Regions from separate parts of the Homo sapiens genome. Here region 2 is linked to region 1. The links come from fine-mapping of genetic effects on gene expression. A gene starts in region 1. The other region holds a variant in brackets. All regions are shown on one strand. Distances are between the middles of the regions. Region 1 holds the start of RAPGEF5 (Rap guanine nucleotide exchange factor 5). Region 2 overlaps RAPGEF5 (Rap guanine nucleotide exchange factor 5).

Evidence for each region.
Region 2: its variant is fine-mapped to the expression of RAPGEF5 in lung (TOPMed, PIP above 0.99).

What each region holds. Positions count from the first base shown.
Region 1 is chr7:22,348,116-22,364,563 of GRCh38, reverse strand. It overlaps RAPGEF5 (Rap guanine nucleotide exchange factor 5), which reads left to right and starts at 7,410. Exons shown (of 26, transcript NM_012294.5): 1 at 7,410-7,734. The coding sequence starts at 7,504. RefSeq lists silencers at 7,265-7,654, 7,715-7,944, 13,583-13,712 and enhancers at 8,065-8,134, 12,343-12,392, 12,683-12,792.
Region 2 is chr7:22,113,857-22,130,304 of GRCh38, reverse strand. It overlaps RAPGEF5 (Rap guanine nucleotide exchange factor 5), which reads left to right. Exons shown (of 26, transcript NM_012294.5): 25 at 4,647-4,701; 26 at 7,784-12,069. The coding sequence ends at 7,899. Among named protein-coding and RNA genes, the nearest start is that of CDCA7L, 180 kb to the right of the region's middle. The variant A/G (reference allele first, on the strand shown) is at 9,019.

The DNA of each region.
Region 1 (16,448 bases):
CTTTCTTGCTGTCTGTTGGTTAAGTTAGTTCTCTTATCACCCTTTTCCTCTGTCTTCTTGGGCATTCAACCACATAGATTTTTTTTTTTTTTTTTCAAAAATGTCCTAAGTACTAAAGGGCCTGGTGAATTTGCACAACTGACTTTAAAAAAGAAATTTCCAGGATGGTGGTAGTAAACAGCATATGAAATGGCATGAACAGACAGACTTTTTTTCAAGATTATTAGTGAATGAATAGAAGATGAACTTATAGGGAGGAGCCCCCATCTGGCACCCATGCCTATCAGCCACTGTCTCTGGCTGGAGCCACCAATGCAAATAATATAAAGAAGGTTTATCATCCCCAAGGGGGATATTTGCATGATGCATAGTGCGTGATGTACTACAAAAATAATAGCACAGTGTCACACAGGTTTGTCATGAACAGTCTGATAGCAGATAGTTACATTTATGATTCTTGAAAACGGAAATAAAATGAATAAGGCTTAACATTTTTAGGTTGGAAACATGTTTCCTTATTTTGCTACATTTCTCTCAATTGCATATTCATTCCATAAGATAACATAAAAATAGAGTTAGTATCAAGTACTCAAACCGTTCTGTCTGGCATTCTCAGCAGAGGCAGCACGGGAAGACTTGGGTTTCTCCTGCAAGGATCTGCTTTTTGTTCTCTTAAAATTAAATGAGAGAAGCCACAAAAATTAAATGAGAGAAGCCATAAGAGTCACTGCCTGAAATTCCATACAAATGGAGATGGAAAGTCACCTGCAGCATGTTCTTCAAGCTTAGCAAAGACAGAGTGTCCCTGCTACTCCTCTATTCCCTGAGCACCCTGGTCTAGCTCCACTGTTTACCATCATGATTTTGAACACTGGCATCTCTCTCTCTCCAGTCCTTTCTCTTCAGTTCTAGCTCACCTCCTCTTCTTGCTGGTTGAAGTTTCATCTGGGCACCCTTTAGTTTAGTTGGTATAACTGCTATATATATATATATATACACATATATATATATACACACACACACATATACACATATATATACATATTTATATATACATATTTATATATATACATATATACATATTTATATATATACATATATACATATTTTTATATATATACACATGTGTGTGTGTGTGTGTGTGTGTATGTGTGTGTGTGTGTGTGTATATATATATATATATATATATATATATATATATATATATATATATATATATATAAAACTAAACCCTCAAAAACCAGCTTAGCCCTTGGGAAGGTTGTGCTCATATTTAATCCATTTTGGTGATTACATTCTGGAGGGTTGGCAGGGTTGAATAGAGAGACAAAATTATATGCAAGTTTTCTGTTTTTGAGAGCTGTTAAACCAGTGCAAAACATCTTGAATGGGGGTAAATTTAAAAATGGGAGATGTTGGGAAGAGATGGATTCCAAAGAGGACTTATCAAAGTCCTAACAGCTGTGGTGTTGGGAGACTTCATTAGGCTGATGTGCATTCTATACATTTAAAAGAAGACAGGTAGGCAGGGCATGGAATGACACAAGGGAAAGACCAGCTCACAGATGATTTCCTCAGCATTCTTAGTAATTGTATAGGAACACAAAAATTAAATGAGAGAAGCCATAAGAGTCAGTGCCCCAAATTCCATACAACTGGGGATGGAAAGTCACCTGCAGCATGTTCTTCAAGCTTAGCAAGGGACAGAGTGTCCCTGCTACTCCTCTATCCCCTGAGCACCCTGGTCTAGCTCCACTGTTTACCATTGTGATTTTGAACACATGGCTAGCAGAGAAGGGAAGATGGAGCTGCCATCTTGAACATGTCTAGACCCTAGTTCCTGCTGGCATTCACTCGTGCAAGCTCCCAGCTTGCTTGTCTCTCTCCAGTCCTTTCTTTTCATTTCTAGCTCACCTCCTCCTCTTGCTGGTGGGAATTTCATCTGATCACCCTTTAGTTGGTATAACTGCTATATAAAACTAAACCCTCAAAACCGGCTTCCCCTACCTCTTTGACTTCTCTAAATCTGGAGCCATTTTTAAAATTTTTATTTTTAAAGATAGGTAATATATTCACATGTTCTAAAAAACAAAAAAATATAAAAAGTGGTACATGCAAAATCTCCCACCTTTCCTTTCCCCACGTGCCCAATTCCAACGACTTGAAAAAGTTTCCAGAGTTTCTTCATGCATGTACAAAAATGGATATAAATTTCCATCCTTTTCATTCACAACGGAGTATGTTCTTCACATTTTTTGAGCCATGTGTCCTGGTCATCTATTGTTATGTAACAAATACCTCTAGACTTAGTGGCTTCAAACACTTTATCATCTCTCACAGTTTGGTGGGTTGATGGGGCTTAGCTAGGTAGTTTTTTCTTGAGCTCCTTACATACGATTGCAGTCAGACATCACTAGTACAGGAGTCATCTGAAGGCTCAGCTGGACTGTGTCCAAAGTAGCTCCCAAATTGGCAGCAATTCATGTTGGTTGTTTACTGGGAGCTCAGCTGCCAGATCACCTCCACAGGGCTTCCATGTGGCTTGGGCTTCTCCCTGCAAGGAGGCTGGGTTCTGAGTAGGCACATCCCAAGACCAAGCAATCCAAGACAGCAGGAAGTGGAAGCTGCCAGGCCAACCAAGGGCTATTTACAGAACAGGTGAAGTCACCTCTGTTTATTCTATTGGCCAGATCATTCACAAGTGAAACGGCTACATGGTCTGGGGTATATACCCAGGGTTCATCCTCCTGTGCCAGGAAAATTTAGGACACGAACACACATGAGGGGTTTAGGAGTGGAGGTTTAATAGGCAGGAGAGAAGAGAAAGAAAAACAGCTCTCTCTATAGAGAGAAGGGGGGTCTTCCCAGCAGAAAAGACTGGCTGGTGGTGGATGTGCCGGATTTTATAGTTCGGTTTGAGGAGGCAGTGTCTGATTTACCTAGGGCTCACAGACTGGTTCGATCAGGTGTGACGTTTACATAGCAAGTGGGGAAGACTGGTCGCCCCATGCTAATCTTATTATGCAAATGAATTCTCCCTTTGGCCTGCACCATCTTTTCTGGTCCTCACTGTACACATGGCTGGGAGAAAAGGGAAGTTGGAGCCGCCATCTTGAATATGTTTAGACCCTAGTTCCTGCTGACATTGACCTGTGCAAGCTCCCAGCTTGCTTGTCTATATCTGCAGCTCCACTTTACAGGCTGCTCTTTGTTAGAAAATGATTTGGTACTGCTTTTCATTATAAAGGAAAGTCTTTCCAAGGACTCCCATACCCTTACTATTTGCCTAAGTGATTTCTTCTTAACTCCTGTATCACAAAGTCTGCTCAAATTCAAAGAGATGGAGAAAGAAACTCCATCTCTTTTCGGGGGAGTGGCAATATCACACTGCAGAAGAGCTTGGAAGATAGGAGATGCTGAACTGTCCATCTTTGGACAATACACTCCACAACACCATCTGAAGTATTTTTCTACTGCTCCTATGCCCAAGGAGCCTTCTTTTGTACTGTCTAACATCTAACCCCTCATTTCTGTTTCCATTGCCGCAATGAATTCAGGCCCTCATCACTTTGTAGCTAGCTCATTGTCAGAGCTATCTTCCTGGTCTTCAATTTCGCTATCCTGCCAATAGCCTTAAAATTTGTGTTTTCTTACCATGGGTCTTTACACACACTTTGACTTTGATGATCTCATTCTCTTAAGTAAAATTCAGCTCTGGTACCCCATCCTGTAGGAAAAATTGCAAGTGGCTGGCAAGTGGTCTCGTTGACTTGTGTGGTTGGCACAAATATGATTTACATTAAAAGAAATTTTTTTGGTCAGGCGCAGTGGCTCACGCCTGTAATCCCAGCACTTTGGGAGGCCAAAGCGGGCGGATCATGAGGTCAGGAGATCGAGACCATCCTGGCCAATATGGTGAAACCCCATCTCTACTAAAAATACAAAAATTAGCTGGGTGTGGTGGTGCGTGCCTGTAATCCCAGCTACTCGGGAGGCTGAGGCACGAGAATCGCTTGAACCCAGGAGGCAGAGGGTTGCAGTAAGCCAAGATCGTGCCACTGCACTTTAGCCTGGTGACAGAGCGAGACTCCATCTCAAAAAAAATTTATTATTATTATGGGTAAATCATAGCTGTACATATTTATGGGGTACATGTGATGTTTTGATACAGGCATAGAATATGTAATGAGCAAATCAGGGTAATTGGGCTATCCATCACCTGAAGCATTTATCATTTCTTTGTGTTAGGAACATTCCAATTCCACTCCTTTAGTTATTTAAAAATATACGGTAAATTATTTTTAACTATAGTCACCCTATTGTGCTACCAACAGTAGATCTTATTCATTCTAATCCATTTTTATATGATTTACATTTTTATAAGCTTTCATACTGCAAAATCAGATTTTGTATAGAAATCCAGATTAAACTGTTTGAAAAACTTAGTTCTTATATATGAAATAATTGAATTATTCAACTCATGTGTTCTAGATACTGAACAAAAGAGAAAAGAAGCCCTGTCCTTATGTCATATACATTTTAGTTGTGGGGAGGCAGACAATAGGCAAAATAAATAAAATATATAGAATATGGATGGTGGTAAGCTCTGTGGGGCATTCGGAAGGGGATGAAGAAAGGAATGGATAGGAAAGACTGCAATTTAAAATCACATGGTCATGGAAGGCCTCACTGAAATGGTGACATTTGAATTTAAAAACTGAAGACACTGACTGAGAGAAATGTGGATTTCTAGAACTGCACTATCCAACATGGTAGCCACTAGCCATATGCTGCTATCTAAATTTATATGAATTAAAATTAAACAAAGTTAAAAATTCAGTTCCTCAGTCACCCTAGCCATGTTTCAAGTGCTCAGCAGTCACATGTGGCTAGTAGCTGCAAAACAGATAACAGAAAATGTGCATCATTGTAGAAAGTTCTGTTGGACAGCATTGCAGAGGACTCTCATTCCAGACAGGGCACAGCGAGTATAAAGGTTGCTTGATTTGAGTTAAACAGTGACGTGGCTCTTCTGTGTACACATCCTACTATTCCCTGTTGTTTGCCTATTTTTATCCTGAAGCTAAATGGCATTTGTCATTTATCACCTTAACCTAAACCAATTTTCCAAAGGCCCTTCTTGAACTTTAGACGCTTGGTCTATCCCATAGAATCTAAGGAATGCTGGCCTTGCATTGAGCAACTGTGTGAATGGGTTTGAAGACCAGGAACCTGGACCAGGAGACGGAACACGTGTTCTACTTTGGAGTAGAGTAAGTTCATGGTATGATTCAATGTTGTCATTGGGGTGATGGGGCGCAAGCACCCACTAATCTGAGTGTCCTGGAGGGCTTCTAGTGGGCCAGGTGTTCACCCTTTAGTTGTATGTCATGGGGAAGTTGGAGGTATGGGGGTGAGTGGCACTCTGGGGCTCAAGACAACGACCAATTACCAACTGGAGCTGCAATATCTTAACACTGTAAAAACGGATAGAGTCTGACATGGTAACATACAAATGCAATTTCAGCCTTGGATAAATGCATGTGATAGGTATTTGGAAACTGTAATGGACTATGGAGTCCTATTATAAAGTCCTTTCCAGTTAACACACACAGCTTAAGGTGACAGGGTTTAAGGCCTTCTGCAGTGTGTTACTAGCATCCATTCTGGTATCTTCTCTTACTTCTTCATTATGTCATCTTTCCCTTCACTAGCATGACATATTTTCAGTGCCCAGTGAGTTCTGTGTGATACCACCTTTGTGTTTTTCTCATGTCTTTCTCTCTTTTTTTTTTTCTTTTTTGAGACGGAGTCTCACTCTGTCGCGCAGTGGCGCAATCTTGGCTCACTGCAAGCTCCGCCTGCCGGGTTCACGCCATTCTCCTGCCTCAGCCTCCCGAGTAGCTGGAACTACAGGCGCCCACCACCACGACCGGCTAATTTTTGTATTTTTAGTAGAGACGGGGTTTCACCTTGTTAGCCAGGATGGTCTCGATTTCCTGACCTCGTGATCCGCCCGCCTCAGCCTCCCAACGTGCTGGGATTACAGGCGTGAGCCACCGCGCCCGGCCTCATGTCTTTCTTCCTTACTTGAAGGACACCTACCCTCCTTCTGCCTGGTTGAATCTTCCCCACTCACCCTTAAGGTGCAGTTTAAACTTCCTTCCTTTCGTGGATTTAGCTTTGCCCATCCCAGGCCAGAAGCATTTCTCTCTCCTGTGGCCTGAAGTGGTCTTACCTACACTTACTTGGCAATTAGCAAGAGTACAAGTGCAATATCTTTGTTTTTCTGGATGTTTGTCTACTCCTAGGTTAAGTCTTACCTTCCTTAAGGGCAGAGGTCACAGTTCGTTCCTCCTTTTTTGTTACATGGCATGTTTTTATACATATTTGCCAAGCACCTACCATGTGAGTGGCTGAGGGCACAATGGTAAACCAACTCTGGACCCTGACCTCCTACGATTCTTGTCATTTTTTAAAAATGTGAATAAGCTTATTCAACTTTTGTAAGTCTTAGACAAAGATGGGGATCCCAGCGCCCCACTGATGAGAAGTCAACACCCTGGCTGGCCCTTGTTGAAGACAGATTGAGCTGAGATGTGAACATTCACACTCCCTGGCGTTTAAGGCACTGCTGGAATAGTTTCACTCTCAATGATCCAGAATTCCTGCCTCCTGGAAGGGTGTAAACAATGATTCACACCACGGCAGGCCTTTACAGTTCACCAAGCACATTCATCACAGCAGCGGGCTTTCAGGGAAGGTCAGGTTCTGACATGCTAACAGAGATTCACCTTCAGGTCACCAGACTTGCAGCTACTCTGCTCAACACCTATCATAACCAACAAAAGTTTTCTCCCTTCGTCCTTTAAGGATGCGTGTGCCAAGAAGGGTCGGCGCAAAGCAATTTTGCCTCATGGTGTTTGCCTTGTAGCGTGTCTATTTTGAAGTTCCTTGGCCAAAACAGTTCCCAGGAGTAAAGATTACGATGAGGGGCCAGGCTGTGCAAAACGCGCGGGAGGGCGGACGACTCTCCAGCACACTTGGTTGAAGTCCAAGTCAACCCCTGGCTATTCGAAGAAGTGAAGCAGGACTTTTCAGCCTAAGGGGTAGGGGGACAGGGACAGGACAGAAGAGCGGGTTTGCCGGAGATTCTGGGAATTCTGCACCTGTGGATGAGCCGGTGCCCAAGGTGCCCTCTTCCTCCCGGGTCCCGAGTGGGAGATCCGAGGGGGACAGGTCCCAGGCAGCTTTCGCAGGCGAAAGGGCGGGGCGGGGCGGGGCCCGCGCACCTGGGCGGGGAGGGGAGGAGAGAGGAGGGGAGGGGAGGCGCGCGGGGCTGAGCCTCGCGGGGGCCGCGGCGCGCGCCAATGGGCAGCGGCTGGCAGCGCGCCCCGCGCCCGAGCCGCAGTCGCGCCCTCTCGCTTCCTGGCGAAGGCGCGGACGGCGCGCGGAGGCGAGCGCGGTGGAGAGGAGCCCCCGGCGCCGCAGCGCCGTCAGGGCATGAGGATGGCCGTGGGCTCCGTCAAGATGCAGCCGCCGTGCGAGAGCCCGGCCCTGGCCGCCGCGGCGGCGGTGGTGGCGGCAGACGGCCCCCTGCGCCGCAGCCCCAGCGCCCGGGAGCCCGAGCGCGAGCAGCCGCCGGCGTCGCTGCGGCCGCGGCTGAGGGACCTGCCCGCGCTGCTGCGGAGCGGGCTCACGCTGCGGAGGAAGCGGAGCGCCGCTGGGGGCCGGGTGAGTGGCCCGGCCCTGTCCGAGTGGGCACGGGCGGCGCGCACGTGGAGCCCGCGCCCACCCCCCGGGCCGCTGAGGGGGGCGTCTGGAAGTTGGGGAGGTGGCGGAAGGGACGCCCTTCTGCCGGACTCGGCTGAAGAGGGGCCCGGGACGGCGGGTTTTGAGGTGCCACCCCCTGAGCGACGGCTTCCCCCGCCCCCACACCTCCCCCCCACCAGGCTGCACCTGACTTAACCCCAGGGCCCCCAGATTCAGGCTGCGGGACCGGGCATCGGCTGAAGACGAGCTGTTTGCCTCTTCTCGGAGGGGAAGCTGCAGGTGTCCAGCGTCCAACAGCCAGCCAGCCCTGTCCCAACCGCAAGCTTCAGGCCCCACGAGCGGCATCCCTGTTTGCAGGACGCATGCGACGTGTGTGCTTGTTTTGGAGGTGCTGTTGCAAGCTCTGGGCATCGAGACTGGTTTTGGTGGTCTCCACCGCCGAGGGGCAGACCCAGGAGTCGGAAGCTCTTGGGTGAGCTTCCAGTTCCTGGGTTCCGGTGTCTCCAGCACTTAATACTCCTGGACACCCTCTTGAGCAGGAGGGTGCACGCCCCCAAGAACCTTCAATATTGACTTCCTGATGGTGTGTTCAGATACGATTTCCTGGTGAAGGAGTGTCCCTCATTGAGTTCTAAGTGCATCTAATGACCTGAGCAGGTCAGGCATGTTTTGTATTTTTAAGAGAAGCAGGAAGGTCTGCTGATTGTCTCCTGGGATCTTTAAGAAGCCACCTAGGAGGCCCCGCCAGGGCCTCAGGACACAGAGCTGACTTACTCAGATTTCCCTGCTCACCAGGGTTTGGCGGCACCTTTGGTGGGTTCTACTCATCTTTTAAAAATTTATTATTAAGTGGTCTTTAATGAGAAGCTGCATCAATGTGGTTTTTCTTTCCCGTTTGGCTGTAATTTTTAAAATGCAGTCTTGTCTGACTTAAAACAAGACCTTGCTGGGAGACTTCTAGCTCTTTCAGAGATGGGTTTGTGTAAACTTGAGAGTGAGGGATAACCACTTGTTTTCATGCGCCCTCCTTTGGGTAGGGAAGGGTCTGAACTGATGTCGGTCTTCAGCTTCTCGAGGCTGCATCTCTCTTTTCCTAGGCATTTTCCATCTCAGGTGGAAAATGGTCCATCCCAGGTCCATCTCAGAAGATGTTCTGAGGATTCTCTGTGTGTGATGGGACATTCTTAAAGTCGGTGACCCAGAGAGTTTAGGAATTGCCCACAAGTGACCTTAACATGTGTGGCATTTAGGATTGCCTGCAAAGTAAGTGAGGAAATGTGTCCCCAAGATGTGGTGTCGGAATAAACAAGAACTGGAGTTATAGACTTTGCAGGAATCCAGGGAAAAGTAGGTCAAATTATGTTTCTATTATCCTTGACGGTTACTTTTTCATGGCACAGAATACTGAAGACATGAGGGCTGCCAGGCAGTCTGCGACAAGAATTGCTGAGGGTTTCTGTATAAATAGATCTATAGTATTTATTTGCGTTCATACTCATGTTTCTTGCTGCCTGGGAGGGTGTCGTATACCTTGTCAATATACCTATTTAGTTTTATTTTTTAATTACTCTGAATGTGGTTACCTCAGATAATGTATGCTTTATTAACCCTCTTTGATTCTAATACTGTATTATTTCTTTTTGGGACTTTCCAAACACATTTCGTAACTGCATAGCCAGTTTTTATTGAAGGAAGTTTGATTGTCAGTTTTTCCAGTGTTGGAAACCCATACTTTTTGACTATTTATTTGACTGTTTATTTCCCCTTTCTTCTGCCTTGGAACTACCTTTGTGATTTTGGAATCTTCCCCATCAAAGGAGTAGGAAGGGGGTTGAAAGAAGGAGAAAAACAAGTGAAATATGAACTTGTCTTAGGCAGCTCAGGCTGTCATAACAAAATACCGTAGACTGGGTGGTTTAAACAACAGGAATTTATTTTCTCACAGCTCAGGATGCTGGGAAGCCTGAGATCAATGTGTAGGCTGATTAGGTTTCTGGTGAGGGCTCTCTTCCTGGCCTGCAGATGACCACTTTCTCGTATATCCTCTCATGGCCTTCCCTTGGTAAACGCAGAGGAAGAGAGGGCTCCCTCTTCTCATAAGGCCACTAATCCCATCATGAGGGCCCCACCATCATGACCTAGTCTAACCCTAAATAATTATCAAAGGCCTCATCTCCAAATAATGTCATGTTTGGGGTTAGGGCTTCAACATAAGAATTTTGTAGGGGGCATACACTTAACAGTCCAAAACACAGGGGGTTTGAAAGAAAGAGAGATACAAGTAGAATATGTATCAGACTGGTTGGTTGGTGACTTGTTAGCATCTGGGATTGTCTGGTTAACCACCTTGGATTGGGCAGTGATGCTAATGCAAACAAATCATGGCTTGGATCTTTTTGTAGACCTTCAGCTTTGTGTCTCATGGGCCATACCTCCAGACTGGAGCTGCGTGACTTCAGGGATAAGTTAACAGAAATCCATTACCACTAGTAAAGACACAGCTTTGTGCATTACATGAGTTAGTTGAGTTTTCATCTCCTATATTGACCAAGATCTGATTTAGGAATATGTGTGGTCCTTATCCATGCTGCCCTGGGCTCCCACAAACCTGGACAATCTGACATCAACTGACATTAACAAAGTTCTTTGTGGGTTGTGTTGCTCAACCCAGGTGCATTATAGGCTTTTTTTGTTGTTGTTGTTTTGTTTTGTTTTTTTTCTGAGACAGGGTTTTGCTCTGCCACCTAGGCTGGAGTGCAGTGGTGTGATCATAGCTCACTATAGCCTCGACCTTCTGGCTCAAGCGGTCCTCCCACCTCAGCCTCCTGAGGAACTGGGATACAGGCACACACCACCATGCTTGGCTAATTTTTTTTTTCCTATTTCTTTTAGAGACTGGGGGTCTCACTACGTTGTAGGCTATCTGTTACTAGGAAAAAATCAAACTGCCATTTGGTTAATATGCCTGAGTTCCTTGGTTCCTCAGTTCAGTCACTTCTAGTTGTGTTGAATTCAGCATGCATACTGGTTAAGACTCTTTGCACTTCTTTAAGACAAATGAGGGAAAGACTAAGTTGTACATTGTGGGAGGGCCCTAACTACCTCTTAAAAATCAGTAGCAAAGTAATGCACAACCTGAGTTCCTGACAAAACCCTTTAATTTTTTTAATTGTATAACAGAGATTATGAGAGAATGGTATAATGAACACCTGTGCTTCAACAGTTATTAGCATTTTGCCAGTCTTGTTTCATTTATTTTCCCCCTCCATACACTTTTGTAGGGGCTAGTGCATTTTAAAACAAAATTCCGTACATCATGTTGTCTTACTCACAAATTTTTCAGTTTACGGTCCTGATAAGGACATTAAAAACAACAGCAAAACTTTGCCTTTTTCACACCTAAAATATTAATAATTTAAAAATATAATTTCCATATTCAAATTTTCTCAAAGTTGTCTTTTTACTTATGATTGTTGGAAACAGGAGCTAAATGAGGTCCACATATTGTATTTAGTTGTTAGGATTTCTAATTTATTTTATAACAGCTTCCCCTCCCTTTTTTCATGCCAGTGATTTGCAGAAGAGAGTGGTTCATTTGTGCTGTAGAACATCCTACTGTCTGGACTGATTCCTTGTGGTGATGTTTAGCTTGTTCCTCTATTCTGTTTCCTGTGATCTGGCAGTTAGATATAGAGGTTTGATTAGATATAGGTTCAAAGACAAGTAACCTTCATGGATGGTGCTGTGTAAAATCTATTGCATCACATCGTGAGACGCATAATGTCTGGATATCTCTCTTTTTGAGATGGAAAGATTGATTCGTGAGTTTAGGTAGTGTCACTTAGCTGTCTGTCTTCTACTTAATGATTTTAGTATCACAGATCGTTGTAGCCTAGATCCTTTTCATTAGGGGTTGCAAAATGGTGATGATCTAAATCCATCATTCTTCTTGCATTTATTAATTGGAATTCGGTCTGTAAAGAACTTTCCCTCATAAATTATTTAGGTCTCCTGAAATTCACAATGTGCAGGATAGACAGGGAAAAGTCTTAATTTTTTCCTTTTACCAACTATCAGAGTAATGATTTGGTGCTTTAACAATCTCCAGTGAGAACCAGTGAGTTTTTCTTTTTTAAGTGTCATTAAGAACTTATGAATCTTAATGTATTTGTTTCTGTCACTTCAGTCAATATCCTTTTTGGTGCTTGGTTTATCTTTGTCTCCTGTATACTTTTTAAATGGCCAGTAAACTCAAATACCTTTCTTACTTTTCTGACGCAAGATATTCTAAGTGCATCTTGTCCATAGTCTGCTGCTCCCGACCTGAAACCCTGAAATCAGCCATTTTCCCAAGGAGCATTGATGAATTTTTTTTTTTTAAACTGACAATCGTTCATTTCCCCATCTTTTACCTTTCTTAGTGGTTGCATTATTTTTCCCTTGGTCTTAAGCCTCCTACCTTACTTTTTTGTATCTTTTTAAGTCTTTCTCATCAGGTTGTTTCTAAGACTGATATTTTCCCCCTAATAAAAGAACTGATAACAGCTATTCCCTTTTTCTGTATATACTGTCAAAATGCTGGGACTGACTTATTTTGGGCTTTGGCTGCTGTGATGTTTTCTGCAGCCTCTGCCACTGTCTTCAACGTCTTGGTATCTGTTTCATTTACAGCAGCCAGAATGATTCACCAGTTGTGCCAAATTGCTCACCAAAGACCTTCAGTGATTCCCAGCTTTTGGATTGGTCATCAGAAGGGCCTAATTCTCTTTAACCACCCTTCACTAGCCAGGGTTCTTATGGCCTGTGCTCTTCAAAATTGAGAAACTGGGAAGAACAGCTGGTAGCCCTCTGAATGAAGTTCTCTCTTTTTCTTTGCCCAGATGATTCCGTCTCAAAAAGGAACAAAGTATCCCTTTCCCTTTGTACAAGCTGGAGTGCTTTAGCTCTGACTCAATACCCTCCTCTGCTAGAAACTTGACTTTATTGATTGAGAAATAGAAACCGATCCAAATTATATACCAGTATGCCCAATGTATCGCCGTTTTAGGCACCTATTTTACAGGCAAAGCATGTCATTTATTCTTTGTGTTTAAATTGAAATCAATGGCTAACATCATAGCACTTAATTATGTACCATGCATATTCTGATATAAACTTCAACTCTCACTACAAGCCTATGAGCCTATGAGTTAGATGCTGCTATTTGCATTCCACAGATGAAGAAACTGAAACACAGGTGTAATTTGCCCGAGGTTACAGAGTGTGTGCCAGAAGGGAGGTTTGCATCTATGTATCCTGTTTCCGTAGAGCCAAGTCCATGCTCTGAATTAACTTTAGTTTTCCTCAAATGCATTGAGAGGGCAAAGGGTCTATTTACTCTAAACTGTGATAGCCTTATAGTACCTGCTGATATTATCTTACCACTCTGAGAGAGGTAAATAAATGCCATTAATAATGTCAGACTTTTCACTTTTATTTGGGCACACAGAAGCTTATTATTGACATATTGGGTTTAGGGGAAGTGGGGAGAAGCATTGTGGTTATAGGCGAAAGGTAACTAATGTTTACTTAAATTAAAAATAGCTCAAGATCAGCCTGGGCAACAAAGCAAGACCATGTTGCTACAAAAAACAAACAAACAAACAAACAACTAAAATACAAAACAAAACAGCATCCATGTGTCATAAGCAAAATCAGCCATGCTCACTTGATCAAGGTCAATCCAAAAACCTTGTGAATTCACCCAGCTTACTTTGTTCTCATCTGCTTATGGCAGCCAGAAGATAAAGGCCATTAAGAGAGGCATGCATCTGCCAGGAAGGGTGAGTCAGATCAGATATGAGGGACACATAGTGAACTTATTTGAGAAATATTGACTTCACTGCCTCTGCTTGCTGACAAACTACTATCCTGATCCTTGGTGTAAAACTGTGTTAGCTATGGCTACAGATAAAATAAAGCTCTGTGGATGCCAACTTCAAAAATATTTATTTGGGAAGAAGGAAAAGAAACTGTAGATTCATTTAATTTCGTGTGAATTCTAGCAAAGGAACTCAATGGCAAGTTAATATTTTATTTACTTATTTCTTCCTTTCCCTCCCAACCCCCACACTTTGGTGACATAATTAGATCCCAGGAAAAGACACAGGCTGTGGCTTCAGAGTGGGTTTGAATCCCAGTGCTATCACTTATTATCTTTGCATTAGTTATTCTCTGAGCATTCTGAGCCTCAGTGTCTTCCTCTGTAATGACATACACAGTGGATCAGGTTTTTCCATGAATAGAATATAAAGTGTTGGGTACATTGGAACTTAAATAGTTATGTCCCTGGCAGGATGCTTACTCTATGCAAAAGGACTTTCATGGACATATTTATAGAAATCTAGACACAAACATTTTTGCTTTCATATGCAATGTTGGATTCTATTTTTTAAAAGCACATGATATCCCAACATATAGTGAGTATTTTAGGTAGCGTCTAAATACTGATACCATAACAAATAGGCTTCATTTCATACTTGCACTTTCTCTTAAGTTGATGTGGCAGTAATTGGCAACTTGTGTAGCTAGCAATAGATGGAAAGGTAGGAAATAAGTCATTGGTAGTGACTTTGAGCGCTTGTGATTTTTTTTTGCCTCAATACTGCATAACAATCTTTGTTAGGAGTATAGATAATTCCAGTAATGATATATGATCTGGAAGTACTTTTTGAGAGATCATAAGATTTTATATGAAGATAAAATAGTAAAAATCAATGACTTAATTTGTTGTGGCAAATCATTATTATGGTAAATCATTCGTTAATGGGTACGGACAAGGGAAAATCCACAGATGCCACTGTGGTAGGTCTTCTTCAGATTGAAACCTCCAGAGTCCCCTGAAGGGAAGAGGTATTTTCACCTATGAGGAAATTACAATCCAGAGAGGTTAAAAGCTTTCCCATGGCTAACCATGTAGGAAATAGCAGAGAAAGAATGGAGCCCAGAACTACCTGATTTCAAAGACTGTAGCCTGTCTGCAATATCGTGTCTAAAACTTTGAAAGGATAACAACATATGGTATATTGAAACAATGGATGCAGGAAACATTTCAAGTCTTAGTGTAAAGCACAACTCATTCTCTTTCCACTCTCTTCAGTAATGGCTTCCAGGATCAGTCATTTATTTATTTTTATTGATACATATTTTCAGGGTACATGTGATAATTTGATACATTAATATAATCAAGGGTAATTGGGATATTGATCACCTTAAATATTTTTCTTTTCTTTAGGAACATTTAAATTATTCTCTTGAAGCTACTTTGAAATGAAATGCACAATCAATTAATGTTAAATTATAGTCACCCTTTTTTTTTTTTTTTTTTTTGGATGGAGTCTCACTCTATCGCCCAGGTTGGAATGTATTGGTGGGATCTCAGCCCACTGCAACCTCTACCTCTTGGGTTCAAGTGGTTCTCCTGCCTCAGCCTCCTGAGTAGCTGGGATTACAGGCATCCACTACCATGCCTGGCTAATTTTTGTATTTTTAGTAGAGACAGGGTTTCACCACGTTGGCCAGGCTGGTCTTGAACTCCTGACCTCAAGTGATCCGCCTGCCTCAGCCTCCCAAAGTGCTGGGATTACAGGTGTGAGCCACTGTTCTTGGCCCCTACTGATCTGTGGAACACTGGGTCTTATTGCTTTTTTTTTTTTTTTTCTTTTAGGCAGAGTCTTGCTCTTTCACCCAGCCTGGAGTACGGTGGCACCATTTTGGCTCATGCAACGTCCACCTCTGGGTTCAAGCGATTCTTGTGCCTCAGCCTCCCTCCCAAGTACCTGGGATTACAGGCATGTGCCACCACACCTGGCTAATTTTTGTATTTTTAGTAGAGATGGGGTTTTGCCACGTTGGCCAGGCTGGTCTCAAACTCCTGGCCTCAAGTGATCCGCATGCCTTGCCCTCCAAAAGTTTTGGGATTACAGGCGTGAGCCACCGTACCCAATCCATCACTTATATCTAAGTGTATATTTGTACCTGTTAATCAAACTCTCTTCATCCCCTCCTCTCCACTACCCTTCCTGGCCTCTGGTAACCACCAATGTACCCTCTGTCTTCATGAGAAGGGATCAGTCTTTACTCAGAAGCTTTGGCCATGGCTTGAGCAGAGTAGCTGTCAGCCATCTCCCAGCAATACCAGCCATTGGACAAGAAACATGAAGGTTTGGGATGACTCATCCTAGAAGTCATTGTTTTCTCAGCTCCATAGTACACATCTACTTGGAGATTTATAAGGCATGCAAGCTCCTTTTCTGGCCTGTATGAAAAACTGGAAGAGGTAGAATGAGTTCCTTGTAACCCAGGATTTATGTTTCTGATGGTAACATGCTTGATATTTAAGCAACTTGAGATTAGGAAGTTGGAAGTACACATACCTGTCAAAGTAACTGAACCTATTTACAATAGAATAAAATCATTGAGAATACACAGTATCTTTTAATGAAATTAAATTTTGGTATGTTTACCTTTTAATGCACTATGATTACCTGCATGGAATTACTCTTAATTGTTTTTGTTGTGGGTGGGGGGATTCCAGGCCTTTTTGAGAATCAAAAGATAGCACAGCAAAAGAAATGCACATTCAGACATAATTTTGCATCTCATTTCAGAGGGCTTGTGGATGTTCTGAAGCCTGT
Region 2 (16,448 bases), 230 kb after region 1:
GAGGGGTTACCCATAAGAACTGAGCAACTGTAAAATAGAAGTACTCCAAAGAGACCCACTTGCCTGCAAGAGGAATGGATTTATCTGACAGATGAACTTTAGTGTCATAGAGTAAACTGTCCTTCATGGTTAAAGACGATACCAGTAACCCTGCTCCACAGATCCTGACCTTTGAGTGACCTTTTCAGTAATGGTGATGGATTTGTGTGAACTCTTGCAGAAACTGACCCTGGTTCCCTGTGAGACTGAGTCAGGCACTTGAGAGGAGGTTAAGTGAGGCAGGGACCACAGACCATGATCAAAGAACGGTAGGAACTGATGAGTCCTGCTGAGGCTTGGCACCTGACCTTTGCCTCAGAAGTACATTGCTCTGCTTACCCAGCCAACTCCCCACATGTAGGGTGAAGCAGCTTGGGAACAGTGTAGTTGGCTCTTATACAACCCTTATACAACCCCCAAAACCCAAGCATCTGGAATATAGAATACAGTCTTGGAATATCTTGCTTTATCTCCATTTTAACCACACCGAAGACCATCACTTCACGGCTAGTGCTTTTCTAAGTGGCTCTGTCAATACATTTTCAAGTTTGTCTCTGCAGTAAGTGTTTTGGAATCAGAGCTCAGTTATTTTAGATGCTACAGTCAAACCAACAGAGCCAGAAATGGATAAAGTGTTATTTTTTTGTACGTGTTTTGTGTTGCTGTGTGATATTCTGAAGATCACAGGGCACTTAATGAAAGGCTGCAGGCACTAGAATTCTTGCCTCTAAGCAGGTTAATCCCTGTCGTTTGGGATTAATGAAACAATTGCGGGAATATGAAGCCTTTGGTCAATATTTACTTCGCTTCCTGGCCAACACATCTCCCTAAGAACAACACATGAGATTTGTGGAGCATCTGTGAAGATGTGGGATGAGGTGTGTCACGCCAAGTGGAATTCCCTGGAAAGGCCTAGTAATCCTTTCCCCTGACTAGTCCAAGGGGCCGTGGGAGAACAACTAAACTCTTTATCAGCTGGCTGTTGCCTGTTGTTGAGGGCAGACGTGAGGTTGACCTCCCTAAAGTGAACCAGTGAATTTGTTAAGTTCATTATGTCATTTCCCCCTCAGATAGTGCCACCAAAGTGACAAGATAATAAAAAAAAAACCTGAACAAGTCCATAAAGTCACAAATGGGAACAAGCTGTGGAAAGCTTGTTCCCACCTTCCTTCTGACCAGCATCTGTGGCCCTCCCCTGCTCTCTCCAGTAATCCAGCAGAAGCCTCTTAACGCCAGCTCTCAAATATGCCAAGACTGCCAACTAACCATAGGGCTGGAAATGAAGGAGGTCTAAATGATATGACTTCTATTAGGGTCAATCATCATACCCTTAATTCTTTGAGAAAGTTTAAGGGAATAGCATGGCATAAATAATATTTTAAATTCCTAAAGAGAAATTATATTTTATAAAAGAATGAAGAAATGGGTGCAGTTCAGCATGCACACAGCACTCACATAGCGCACACGCAAGCCCGTCAGGCAGGCACGGGCTCTTCATTTCCTCAGAGGGCAGGCTCCACACCTGGGACTAGTGAGCTCCTGGTCCACAGCATGCCTCATGCTGACCCCTCCTTACACAGAGTAGACAGGATAAAACTGTGTCCAGGACAAAAAGCAGTTTTATGTCATATATAGCATTGTGTTACACTTGGATGCTGGAGAATGAGACTGACCTTTCTAGGAGAAACACTATTTTCAAGGAATATTTCTTAGTAAAGGACTGGGTTTCTCTAAAGGTAAAACAGGATCATCTTTCACGATAATGAACCAATAGAACCTAAGTGAATTAACTTGTGAAAAGTCAATTCCTCATGATGGATATTAACTTAAGCCAGCTAACAGATAATTCAGTGTATTATCTTTATCTGACTGATGCAGGCCAGTACACTGAGTCAGACCCCATGAAAATCCAGAAGCCCTCATCAGGTCTAATGAGATTTCTGTTCTTTATGCTACATTCCTTGCTGCCTCAGCTACTGGAAATGTTTTCATCTCAAACTGTTTCATAAAAAGAAACAAATGGTTTCTTTTCTTCTCTTTATCCCTCGATGTTAAGAGCATCATCTTTTACCCTGTCTACCCCCTCCCCCTTTAGAAAGCCTAAAGATGAAGACCAGAACTCAGGTTTCAATGCCACACCCACTACCCAGCCTTACATCAGTTTGAGCCTTGCACAAGCTACGCAAATGGCATATGATAGAAATCAATGTGACGCCAGAGCTTAAAATGAGAAAACTGACCTGGGAAAAGTGGTAAAATCTGGGGAAGGAAACTGAACAATACATGCACAGACATGAGTCAGGTCTCATTTCCTTTACAAATGCAGCTTGAGCTACTGCAATAATCACTGTCCTATTCAATTTTCCACTATCGAATAGAAGTGCATTAGAAATACGGTTATGACAACAATTCAATCAGTAGGTCATATTCCAATAATATTTCTGTATTTCTTCTGAATTTTAAGTAAGAACATATTTTAGTGTTTAATATTCTTTCAGCAATAATTCATTGAGGGTTTGCTGTATATGGTGATCCTATGCTCAGTGTGTATAGTTGGGACATGAAAGATGTTGACCCAAATTGGAGGCCCAGATATGAATGATATTAATTCTTGAATAATAGGATGATGTTTGTATTGTGATATGAAACAAAGTAGAGAGCTACTGTTGATTCTCAAGAGAACTAGAACATGAAGACAATAGTATTTAGAGATTATTCTGGCAATTAAGCCAGCTAGCATAGCATTTTGGAAGAGAACATACTGCACTCTAGTTCCTCTTATGGCATATACGTATATGCTTCCAAAATGCTACTTCCTTCAACATGAAAAACTAAAAGTGGTAGAGACAGCTCACTCTTGCAAGTACAAAAGTATAAGATGATGGGATCTTGTCCAAAGCAGCTGTACATTTAAGAAGACTTTTGCCGGCCAGGTGGGGTGGCTGATGCCTGTAATCCCAGCCCTTTGGGAGGCCAAGGTGGGTGGATCCTGAGGTCAGGAGTTCAAGACCAGCCTGACTTGAACATGGTGAAACCCTGTCTTTACTAAAAATATAAAAATTAGCTGGGTGTGGTGGCATGCCTCTGTAATCCCAGCTACTCAGGAGGCTGAGGCAGGAGAATCACTTGAACCTGGGGAGTAGAGGGTGCAGTGAGCCGAGATCACGCCATTGCACTTCAGCCTGGGTGACAGAGTAAGACTCCATCTCAAAAAAAAAAAAAAAAGAAGACTTTTGCCTGGGAATCAGTGAGGACTTCAAGGAAAGAAATTAAATTAGAATATTGAAGACTGTACGTGAATATAAACTATGAACAGAAAATGGTCTCTAAAGATGTTGATGTTGGCCGGCCACAGTGGCTCACACCTATAATCTCAGCATTCTGGGAGGCCAATTTGGTTGGATTATCTGAGGTCAGGAGTTCGAGACCAGCCTAGCCAACATGGTGAAACCCCATCTCTACTAAAAATACAAAAATTAGCCAAAATTAGCCAGGTATGATGCATATGCCAGTAATCCCAGCTACTCAGGAGGCTGAGGCAGGAGAATTGCTTGAACTGGTGAGGCAGAGGTTGCAGTGAGCCAAGATCACACCACTGCACTCCAGCCTGGGTGACAGAGCAAGACTCCGTCTCAAAAAACAAAAAAAATGATGTTAATGTTTTAGAAAATGTTCATCTTTTGTCAGTATCTCATTTCCAGTTACAATTTAAGATACTTGAACCTTTGAATCTACAAGAATTCCTACCTCCATTCAGCACATATGTGTAAGTCAATGTGTCTGACATAGTAGGCTCTGCACATCCAAAGCCCTCTGGTGGTACTTGGTCTAAAGAAGGAGAAAAGTTCAACAGCAATGACAGTGACACAAAGCCAATAGGTGCTGTACGAAGAGCAGTGGGGATGTTGAGATTGGAGCCTCTGAGTCCAGGAGGGACATCTCAGAAAGGCTTCATGGAGAGGAGGTGACACATACCCTGAAGTGAAACACATGTGCAAATGTGAACAGGATGACTGGGGCTGGGGGTGCTGCACTTCTCTACAATGTATTTTCTCATGGCTCATAAGAACCTGTGCAACCCGGATTGGGTGCTACTGTTTTTTGTTTGTTTGTTTTTGAGACGGAGTCTCACTCTGTCACCCAGGCTGGAGTGTAGTGATGGGATCTTGGCTCACTGCACCTCCGCCTCCCAGGTTCAAGCGATTCTCCTGTCTCAGCCTCCCGAGTAGCTGGGATTACAAGCACCTGCTACAACCCCCAGCTAATTTTTTTGTATTTTTAGTAGAGATGGGGTTTCGCCATATTGGCCAGGCTGGTCTCAAACTCCTGACCTCAAGTGATCCGCCCACCTCAGCCTCCCAAAGTGCTGGGATTACAGGTGAGAGCCACCTCACCCATTCTGGTGCTACTGTTTTTGCAGATAAGGACTAAATATTCTTTGATAATCCAAGCTCCATAGAATCAAAGCTACATCCAGCTCCAAATACAGTTCTTCTCTTTATTACAGCCAAGAGTGCTAGATTATCCTTCCATCCTAGCAGGCACTGCTTCTTCAGTAACACCCTCAACGACCCTTCCATTGATGTGTTTCCTGTTCTACTTTACAGCATATGATCGCAGACACTGTCCGAACCCTGAGACACTGCAGGACTAACCAGTTTGGTGAGTAATTGAAGTCAGGTGCGGAATGTAAATTGACTCTACGTTGGTACCAACTGTGGTCACAAGTATTGGGTGGTAATCAATTTAAACAGATTGAAAAGTATCATATGTATATACATACGCATATTGTATATATATAGTAGATTGTCTCTTTGTTTCCTCACTGCATGTTGGGGATGCAGAGGAAGACAAGATATGGCAGATTATTATCCCCTCATGGCAGCAAGTTTATGCTGTGAAGAGTGACTTTACACACTCAGAAACCTCCTCCCCGCAACTCCCGCTGACTCCTGTCCCCACAGTGTCTTGCTTTGCTTGTCCATTGGCTCAAAATCACTGGTGAGTTTAGCAGGGGTGACCTTGCCCCTAACCTCTTTGCGTGGAGCCTTCCTGGAATAGGACTATAGCTTGTAAAAGTGCCTAAAGCAGCCTTCCAGAATCTTTTCTCCTCTCCAACAAAAACTTCCTGTCTGGAGCTGCCTTTCAGCTGCAAAAGTGTGGTTCTGAGCACTTTTGTAGAATCCCCACTGAGACTAATGTATGTAGGAATATTTGTTCCTTTTTAAATCTCAGCCATAATTTATACTATGTTTAAATGGTGTTAGAACATTGCAGGAAGGAAGGAAATCAACTTCATTGAGTTGAAGGAGCTTTCACATGGGCAATGGAATCCTGACATCAGTCCTAGCAAATGGGGATTATTAACCCTGTAGGTGTAGAACAAAAAGCAGAGACTCAGAGAGATTCACTTATTTAGCTATTATTCAGACTGAGTCTACCTTACCTCCTCGCCCTCTCTTTTGCCCTCTACAGATCCTGTGGATACAAAGGGTAATAAAAAATAGAAAATTGAGTTCAATAATTATAAATTAATCAAAGGCAACCACTCAGTTCAACTTCATTTTTTAAGTAAGACATGCCCATTGTAAAACAATTTTTTCAACAATATAGAAGTCTATATAAAGTAGAAAATCAGAGTCCTACTTCTCAAGAAAAGTACTGCTAACAATTGAGTACACCTGCTTAAGAATTTTTTTCTGTTCAGTGCTGGTCTAGGCTGGCAATATTGTCCCCCAACAAAGTAAGTTAGGAACTGGACTTCTGTGTGGATTATGTTTTCTCTTTGAAAAGGAGACTTATAAATACAGGACCTAATTTTCTAAATATTCACATCAATTAGTACCACTTTAATATACCTATATAATTCTTCATCAAGCATACAAGCGCAATGCAGTTACAATAAAAATAGTAATCATAACATCATCACAGAGATTCACTGAAATGTATAAGCATAATGCTGATGAGTACAGCTTCATATTGCTTTTATCCTCCTTTGCTTCCCAAGTGTTTACTGGGGATTCAGCTAATTCTAAGATATCAGTCTCACTTAACCAAGGAACTCTAGTTTATATATGCTCCAAGTATAGACAGGAAGGTGATAGTTATACTAACTTGTGTGGCCTTGAACCTGCCTTGAACCTCCCACTCATCAGAGAGCAACCCTCTGTGTGGCACTGAGCAAAGGAGAAATTTAAGTAACTATCAAGCCAGTTGATGTTCTAATATTTATATACAGTATCTTTAAAAAATTGGTTTGGGAACTGAATTATCCGAATTCATTTTAACGGTTTATATGAGCATAGTAAACCAATGTCAGCATTTGGGATAAAATATGAAAATGTTAATCAAGTCACTTATGCATTATAAAGTGTCATGCAAATGTCAGTTGCCATGGTTAGAACCATTCATTGTGCCATCTTTTTAAGGCTTGAAAATTAACATAAAATTACCTTTGTAGCATCGTGTTATCCAAACCAATGTTTAACTTTCTCGACGTCTTCCAGAGAAGGCATTCTGGAATAAAACAGCTTTTTGTTACTTTCAAACAGGTGGGATGGTATAAACTTTAACACCTAGTGTGTTTACTTGCTAAAACCAGGAAGCCTTGTTTCTATTAAACCTAAGAATTATAAGCCACCCATGTCATACAGGTCTTAAATTATTTCCTCATAAAATACATTTGTTATAGAGGAGAAAAAAGGGGGTTTCACCAAGAGAAAAAAATGCTATAAGAAAATGCTCAGCCTCCTGCATTTCCCTTCCCTCTGCTCAAACTGAGCTCCAGCAGCTCACCCTGCCTGTCCCATGCATAATCTACAAAGCAACAGGATATGATGTCTTCACCACTCACCTTTCCATTGTTTTACTGTAGTGCAGTTTGGCCAGTGTTCCCCAGCCTCAAATGGTTTGCTTGTGTGTGTGTGTGTTTGACTGTGGTGCACGGGCTTGCCTCGTGGTTCATGCTGCTTCATCCTGGTTCCTTATCAGCACGGACGCTAGCAGGGTGTGGATGTGTTCACAGTGCACTAAAGCCTCCTTTGGCCCCTCGATTCCTTGACTGCCCTAGATATGTGAGTGGAAAAGCCCCTTGTCTTGTCCTTCTCTGGGTAGACTTTAGTCCATACACATACTTTCTGAAGCTATTTCGTCTGTTAACCACATCTTAGAGTCTGTTCTGTTGTATCTGTTCATTCAGTTGCTCCATTAAATTTTTTTTTCCAAAAAATGAGAATACCAAAGAATTGTACAAAATCTAAACAACAGAAAAAGAGTGATTGCATTCATATGCTAAATACATTATCAGCGATTTTCAACGCTTCTAGACTGAGATATAGGACCCAGTGCTGGCCATTTAAACAGGTAACTGCTGTGAAAGGCTACCTAAAAGGGCTCAGGAACCATCTGTCCTGGGTCCGAATCCTGGCTGTGACAGTTAACTTGCTGCGTGACTGTGCTCAGTTTCCCCATCTGTGGAATGAGATAATAACGTAATTTCTAAATAATATACAATGTTAGGTAATAAATGCTATAAGTATCCTGCCAGTCTGATTGCCTGACCTGAGGAATCCATTCTGAGCTGAAAAAGCATTTCTACTGTAGGACAAGGACACCTCTTATGGGATTCTGACTAATGAGAACCCACCTAGTACATTTACTCAGCCTTAGTGTGGGGTTTTGTTGGTATGTAGATACAGCATTACTGCTCTCCTGAGATTGTCTTTTTTCCCCCTCTAAACAACAGGTGACCTGTCTCCAAAAGAGCATCAAGAGTTAAAGTCCTATGTTAATCACCTGTATGTCATTGACAGCCAGCAGGCTCTGTTTGAGCTCTCACACAGGATCGAGCCTCGGGTGTGAGCCCCACTGCCTCACCTCCCCTGTATCTGCAGCACTTTGAGCTACGGGAATGTCTATGCCAAGCACGTTGCTTTCCTGTGAGAAAAGAAGTTGCTGAGTTTTATCAGTATAACCCAAGACATTCACAGGAAAGCCAGCCAAAGCGTGTTCAGGAAGTGATGTCAGCCACCAGAGAGGGGGAGAGGTTTCTCCATGCTACTCTCGGGACAAGAAGGCAGAAGGAGAGTCAGAAGCATTCTTGAGATGGAGAAGGCTGGTTTCTTATGATCACATTGTTGATCCAGTCCAGTTTTCAATATGAGATGTGCCAGCATCAAGACAAGACAACGTCTTGACATGCAATGACCAAATATTTCATTAAGAGCGTGCATGAAACAGGAAGGAGTTTTTACTTTGCCTAGTTTTAGATTACTGTCCATAAGCTGTCAAAGAAGTCATTCTTTTGAACACCTGATGACAGAGACAGCATCTCTAGATCTCCAGGGAGGAGAGGTTTCTGTTGATACAACCTGTGACATCACCAAAAGCCACTTGTGTCTAGGGAGTTAGTGAGGACTGCAGCTAGCATCCATGCTCTGATGGGCAGATGAACAATGTCAAGGTGTGCATCACTTTGCACCACAATCAACTATTGACACATGCTTGCAGGTGAAATTAGTTTCTGTACAACTGATTTGCAGCTATAGGCAAGGTAGATGAAGTTGCTTTGCCAGTAAGGAAAAATAGTAATCTTTAAGAAATTGACTCATTGTTTAATTTCTGGGGATTTTCTTTATACTTCTAAGCAGGCTCTTATCTTTTATTGGACATAATATGATTTTGAAAAAGCACAGTGCCTGACACATTGCAAACACTCACCAACTGCTTGCTGAGGTGACAGAGTCACAAAAGTCTGCATTCTTGTGCCTGATGATGCATTTTGCGTACCTCATACAGGCTCCTTGCCCACACTATGGAATGACAGCAGCCAGTGCAGGGAGGTTAAGTGACATTTAATGAGTGAAGCACTTAGCACTCTCTAGGTAATAAGATAGTGGTAATTACTAGTGTTTTGGCAAATGAAAAATGCCCTGAAATAGCCAAATGTCTGATTAATGTTGGCAACTTAGAAGTCCTATA[A/G]TCCAACTACCAGCCAAAGCAGGGAGCCTTTCTATAATTTGCCTTTTTTTTTTTTTTTTTCAAAATCTGAGTCTTCTAAAATCTTATTATTCCCATTTTTACCAATTGAGGCTCCTGTAGCAAATAAGACCTCTTGATATTTTCAAGGACTGGTTAGAGGATTTCTTTCAACCTTCACATGAACAAAACAGCCTATGGGTCAAAATAATGAAATCCACCCCTGCCTGCTAGATACTTGTCACCTTGCTAAAATGCAAGGGCCTGGTCCATTCATTTTCCAAATGCAGGAGTCTTGGTGCACTTCTCACTCTTCCTGCCTGTTCATCTCTTTCATGCCCACACAGACCTGTTTCCTTTTTGTCTCATCAACGCCTCATTCATCCTCATTACTGAGGCGTGTCCAATGCTTTTTGACATCTTTATAGCAGTGCTGTTTCCTGGGCTCAGGAACCACACTGAGCTTGAGATACTGCTGGAAGGAACCATGTGGAGAGAAGGTTTGGGAGAACTTTGAGAGAGACTTAGTTTGGCCCAGCATGTAAAACTTCAGTCCTGAACATTTATAGGGTTTTATAGAAGGGCATCCTCCAGGGCTGGTCCATTCAGAGAAATGCTGCATGCTGCCGTCATGGAATGTGGCCCACAGGACACCAGAGCCGTGAGAACCGGAGAGCAGACTTCCCTCACGGCTGGGCTGAGCAAACCCTCCAAAGCCCTCCTCACGCAGTTACTAACAATAGCATGGGCTTACAGCACAAGCACGTGTTCTCACCTTTTTCCTATGCCCTGGACTAAGGTTTGGCCAGTGTAATCATATAAGGCCATCCTGACATTGTTTCTGTGTTTCAAAATTTGGATTTTTATTTACATTAGAACTACATTGCTCCTAGTAGAACATTACCTTTAGGGGACTAATTTTCCATGGAGAACTATTTCAGCATATTGCATGCTGCTCAGACCCCAAGTCAGATATGCCCACCAAGCCAGATGAAGCTACACAAATGTGGTATTTAAATGCATTTTGTACAGTGACTTCAGAGTATCTCACATGACATGGGTGTAAACTGGCTGGGGAGAAAATGATGCTTGTTCACCTCTTCCTCCAGCCGTGGTTAGGTGGTCCTAGGGGTAGCAGAGGGAAGGGAGGATTTTGTGCAGTCAAGATTTGCTTTTCCATCCTTGTCTTCTGAATGTCTAAAATCTCTGCATCTTTCTGAAGTTTAACAACTGTCTCCAGAGGTTTGCCAGGCAGCAGCTCTCAGAAGTTTCCAAAGCTTTGCAGAATCTTAGATCTGGAATTAAAGAATTCAAGCCCGAATTGTGAGAACCAGATATTACTCAACAGAAAGCTCTTTCTAAGGAATCTGAGCTGTTCACTGGTGGACAGTGGTGGGGCTTGAGTGCTCCTTGTTAATAGGATGGGCCATGCACCCTCTCTGGATATTCACCAAGGCCTCTTCAGAATAGGGTTTGTTCTGGCTAGAAGCGTGGTCTAGAAGATGGCTAAGCTCTTTGCCAGCTCTCATTTGGAGTTTTATTATTGCATAAAATCTTCGCTCACTCTGCAAATCTTACGTAATCTGGCACCTTCGGCACCAGGTGGTGCAGGGGCACTTCTAAGTGGGCTCTTTTTGTTACAGCACAACTCTCAGACAGTCCTGTGGGTCTTTGGATTCGTCAGCATTCCAGCAAACTAGCCCTGCTTAGAAGTTAGCACAAGACAGCAGAATGCAGGACCCCGTAGGCAAAATCACAACCTTGCTATTAAAAAAAATTTTGTTTTACATACACATTTGCAGGTGTTCCCTAGAGTGTGGTGTTTTGAATTTGCTCTTTGTCATCTGTATAATTGCCAAATGATTATAGTGATACACATGACCTGCATTCACTTTTTTCTAGTTTCCTTAATTATGTTTAGAATAAATTCATTTCCCTAGACCGAGAACCACAAACAGGTAGTGTGGAGCATACACCGAATTTAGAAGCATGTGGATAAGGTCAGTGCTCACACTGCCTAGTCCACAGGGAGAGGATGCTGCATGAATATATACTTGCCTCTGAGTGGAGGAGAAATCGTGGCATGAAAGAGAGAGTACCAGTGATGACTTCTTATCCCTGGAGCTGGGCTTTCACTGCTACCCATATCCCAGCCCTGCGAGTCTGTTCTAGCCAGCACAGACACCGCAGATCCGGAACTGAATGTTCCTAAATGGCGCAGCCAATCCAGGCTTTTCAGAAACTGGGCAAAAACATTAAAATGGGGACGATCGGGTCTTCCGCAGTGGTCCAACACAGGATTTCTTTTAAATGTTTCAAAAACATGTCCTTAAAATTTCAGCCTGCTTCTTAGCGAGTGGGCCAGTTTTGCTTAAAACTGGTGGGGGGGCGGGGGGGAAGTTTTTAAAAATTGCCAAAAAGTTAGATGCAAATGTATTACTGTATAAAGCAAAGCTGTATATACTAAACATTTTTTAGCAGAGTAATATTTATTTGCATAGTCTATTTATTGTATTCGTATCACACTGTTATTAAATACTGGGATGAAATCAGTGACCTGAAGCAAGAAATCTTGCCTTTTAATGTATCATTAATTAGGGCTGCTGTGATATTGTCAGCTTGCATTAACAATTAGAAGATAGAGAACCCGCCATCAGGGTGTCTACCTAACTTCTCAGGGACTACACTTGGTAGTTTTCCACCATTTAAAGAACTGGTAAATATGAAACATTTGTTGAGTTACCAGAATTGCCATTAACAGTGTTTTCTTTCCCATATTCCATGCTTTCTGCCTCTGTGTATATATATAATATATATGTATATGACTGTGCTGTGTATTTATCGAAGCTAGTAAGCAATAATTTATATGTAAAAATGGCCAAGCAATATAAGGTTAAAACTTATATAAGTAACCCTTACCTTATCTTGTATTTTCAATTTTTTTTTAAAACTGCTTTTCCAAATATGAGACTATGTTAAAGACACTATTCATGCCTCTTAGTTTCTTGCTTTCTCTGTGATGTGTGTGGATTAAATAGCTCTGTTCTGGCAGCATATGATGCTCAGGGGGTTGGAACTCAGAAGTCATTTGCTCACTGAAAGAGCTACAAGTAGATGAAGAGGTTCTCAGGCAGCCCATAGAAGCCTAAATCACTTATCCTGCCATTGGGTTATTGCAGAACCTAAACACCCTATTTTGGAAATTGCATCAGTGTTCTCAGAGTCTGAAATCTGGGGAATCTGGCAACCATTGTCATTGCCTCACCCTACTTGAGCAGGACCAGGAACTGTCCCTCACCAGCCCAGATACTGAGTGCAGCTACCAGCCCAGTGGTGATGCCCGGGGCCCAGGATAGAGGTCCTGACAGCGGAAGAGCCATGAGTGGATGGAGCAGCACAGGGATAATAAGGATGCTCTGGGGCAGTGGGATGCCAGGCGGTATATACACTAGCGCAGACTGAGTGTTCAGCATCTTCTCTCTGTGTAAACAGGAAATTTGTACATCTTGCCCATCGAGGTCAAGTTTGGCCTTTGGCATGTGTCCATCTCCCCCTTGCAGGGGGATTATAAACCTCACCTTCTTGAACCCAGGAGTGGCCCAGTGTCTTGCTCTGTCCAGTGAAAAATGGGGAGACATGTCTGTGGAAGCTTTATGAGGTAGCCTGCACCTGCCATGCCTGCTGTGCTGTGAGACCTGCCCTGCTCCAGATGAAGGCACCCCTGTCAGCCTGGGTCCTGGATCACAGGAAACATGGAGCAGAGTCCTGGCTTGTGAACGACGTCTAACTTGAGTGAGAAATCAGACATCATCACTAGAAGTCTCTGAGGTCTGGTAGTGGTTTCTTACTCAGCAGAATGTAGCCTCAGCTGACTAATACAGTCTCTCAGGACAGTCTTTTCTTGACAAATTGCCCTTTCCCTCCGTCCACTTGTGGGCGGCAGTATTGGCTCAGCACAGTACCTCGTGGATGAAGCCACCTGTTGTCGCACATCCATGCAAAGGGCTTGGCTTTTTATGAGAAATGGGAAAGAAGACCTGAAGATAATTTTCTTGGGTTTTTCATCACCAGGAAGTGGCACTTCTGTGAAACAAGGGGAAATGGGAAGAGAAAACACAAGGGCATTGTCTCTAAGGCAGCCACTGGAAGAGAGAAGTCCTGATCCCTAAATCACTTCATCTGTAGGGGCTGACCCCATGGGGTCCTCCTGGAACCTGGAGAATGCAGGAGATGAAGGGAGAATGGGAAGAAGCCCTAGGTTCCAGCTTGGGAAGGGAATAGGAAAGAAAGAGAAATACCCATTGCTAAGGACGTGATGAGATTTTCTTCAATTTCGAGTGGGATAGCCGGTACTGGGAAGATGCACAGGGCTCCCGTGAACTCAGAAGCCTGTTCCTGTTAGCAAAACTCAAAACTCAAAATGAAACTTCTGGTCCTGGCCCTGGTGCACTAGCAACAGAATCCTACTCAAGGCATGAGGTTGCGTCTGAGGTTTTTTGTCTGAGGTCTTCTGAATACCCCATGAGCCTTTGCTCTTCATTCACTACTTTCAACAAATGAGATTCCTAAAGCATTAGACTTGCTGATGTTCTTTACTGAAGTACTCCTGTTACTGAAGGCAGCAGGAATTTCTCTTGCCTAAACAGAGCCATAGCAGTTCCCCTTCCCAGCACCTAAGCAGCAGGGCTGACTTTCTAGGCAGAAAGTGGCATCCTGAGGACTGAGCTAGTGCAGGGCTCCTGGGGAATGCACTCAGATCCCTGATCCAGCCAGACTCAGAGCTGGGTCCAGTCGCATTTCTTTATTTTGTTTCTCCTGCCCAGGAGAAACTCGGCCTGTGTTTGGCCCCACTGTGGCTTCTAATCATCCATCCTTATCCTGGGGATGGGGGTCTTCCAAGTGTTGGGAATTGAGACAGTACCCTATGGTTAGCTTTATGGGCATTTCTGCCACAAGGTCATGTCACTGCTCACCACGGCAGTCCCATAGTAAACTCTGTAGCCACCTTCTGAGTCCACTGCTCTCCCTCCAGCCTGGAGTTAAGGAACTTCCAAATTCTCCTCACGTGACACTTGTGAACCAGGGTAAACCAAGCCCCCCCTGTCTAGCCATATCATGTCACCATTATTTTCTGCTACAGCCACACCGTGAAGAAGATCTCAACAGGTCTGGAAATCTTCCTCTAAAAGAACAAGCTCCCCTGTTGGGGATTCACGCCATTATCTCTGGGTGGTTCCTATATTCCCAGGTTTCCAACCTGGAAATGGGTGGGTAGAAACGCCAAGTTCTCCTGGTTGGACTTTTCCTCTCCCTGGAAGACCCTGAACAGCAGTCCCAGCCTCAGAGGCTGGCTTGCCCGAAATGCCACCATGGGAAGTAATAGTGTACCCTTGTCTCTGGAAGGCCCCTCTTACTCACAGACATCTGGAAGTTCCCAAGTTGTGTGAAAGTTCCCAACTTGAGTGAAAATCACTTCCTGAGAAAATCCCTCTACTGGTCACCTTGTTCTTGGGGTCCCGACCAAAAAACAACACGACATCAACAGAGGGCAAAGACATTGAAGTCTCAAAAGCAATTAAAGCAATTAGCCCACCTGGAAGCCTTGAGACAGCGGCAAGAGCTGCTGCCCAAGTTCTTCAAGTTCTTTTTTTTTTTTTTTTTTTTTGAGATAGGGTCTCACTCTGTCACTTAGGCTGGAGTGCAGTGACATGATCACAGCTCATGCCTCACTGCAGCCTCAACCTCCCCGGGCTCAGGTGATCTTCCCACCTCAGCCCCCCTAAGTAGCTGGGACTACAGGTGTGTACCACCATGCGTGGCTAATTTTTGTATTTTTTGTAGAGATGGGGTCTTGCCATGTTGCCCAGGCTGGTCACAAACTCCTGGGCTCAAGCAATCCTCCCGCCTCAGCCTCCCAAAGTGCTGGGATTACAGGCATGAGCCACCGTGCCCTGCCCTTCCCAAGTTCTACAGCAACAACAGGGCTGTGGTGTCTCAACTCTCAAGTCCCTTTCAAGGTGGGAAATCTGGAGGCCAGACTGAGAAGGATACGTATATACCTCTGTGTAACTGTGTGTGTGTGTGTGTGTGTGTGTGTGTGTGTGTCTTGGCCCTAACTAGAGCAGCCCAGGCCACCAGAATTGCCTTCAGGACAATGAGCTCTTCCCCATCAGAGATGTGCAAACAGACCCGAAATCAACCAGCAGAGATGGTTGCAAGGGCAATCCAGAAATCAGATGACAGCCGTCTCAGGAGACTTTTAAGACCCTTTCAGCTCACGGTGGTTAGGAAAGCTGGTGTAGACCTGCAGTTGCCAGAACTAATTAGTTTTTTGGTGTTTTTTTTTAAGTGACTTGACTAATGTAGGAAATAAGAACTGTTCATGCTTCTTTGTATTCAGTTGACCTGGGCTAGGCCTCAGAAGCTGGAAGGGAAAAGGCCGTGGGAGGATGCCGGAAAGGAACACCTCACCCCTTCCCTGTCCTGTGCCCACTGCTGACTCCACAGTCCTACCAGGGATGAATGCCTGCAATAAACAAACAGAAAAGCCCCTGGAATCAATGCATCACGGCATGCTGCCAAGTGCCAAGCTGGCTACTGCCTCCTTAAGGGTAGGGACTTGGTCCGCCTGGCTCCTCACTGTACTCCTGGCCTCCAGCTGTGCAGCCCCATCCTGTCTCATCTCCCAGCCTCCCTGCCGGGCCCCAGCACTCAGGTCTGGCCTGTCCCTTCTCTGCCCACTCGACACAGTGTGCCCAGAACTCCTTCTCTACCTACCAAATAAGGATTGGTGCACTCTGAAGCCCTCCTGGATGTCCCATCTGACATCGAGCCCCTGCCCCCATCTCTTATCTGAATTCCTGCAGCCGATTGCACCTGCTACTCTTTCAGGAACCACCTTCCATTATCAAGAGCTGGGAAAACTGGCGAAAGTTTCTACCTTGCTCTTCACTGCTGTTTCTGCATCTCATAAAATGCTCCCTACCTCACAAGGTTGTGTGAAAAGTAAAATGAGAAAGTGCATATAAAGTGCGAAATACAGTGCCTGGTACATAGTTCACATCCAATTAGTGATACTTTATGTGTGTGTATGTGTATGTGTGTGTGTGTGTGTGTTTAAAAGCAAGGTCTCACTCTGTCACCCACAGTGGAGTTCAGCAGCATGATCTTAGCTCACTGCAGCCTTGAACTCATGGACTCAAGGGATCTTCTAGCTTCAGCCTCCTGAGTAGCTAGGACTACAGGTGAGCACCACCACACTGGGCTTATATGTATGTATGTGTGTGTGTGTGTGTGTGTGTGTGTGTGTGTGTGTATATAATTTTTTTTTAAGAGAAGAGATCTCGCTATGTTGCTCTGGATGGTCTCAAACTCCTGTGCTCAAGCGATCCTCCAGTCTCAGCCTCCTAAAGTGCTGGGATTACAGGCATAAG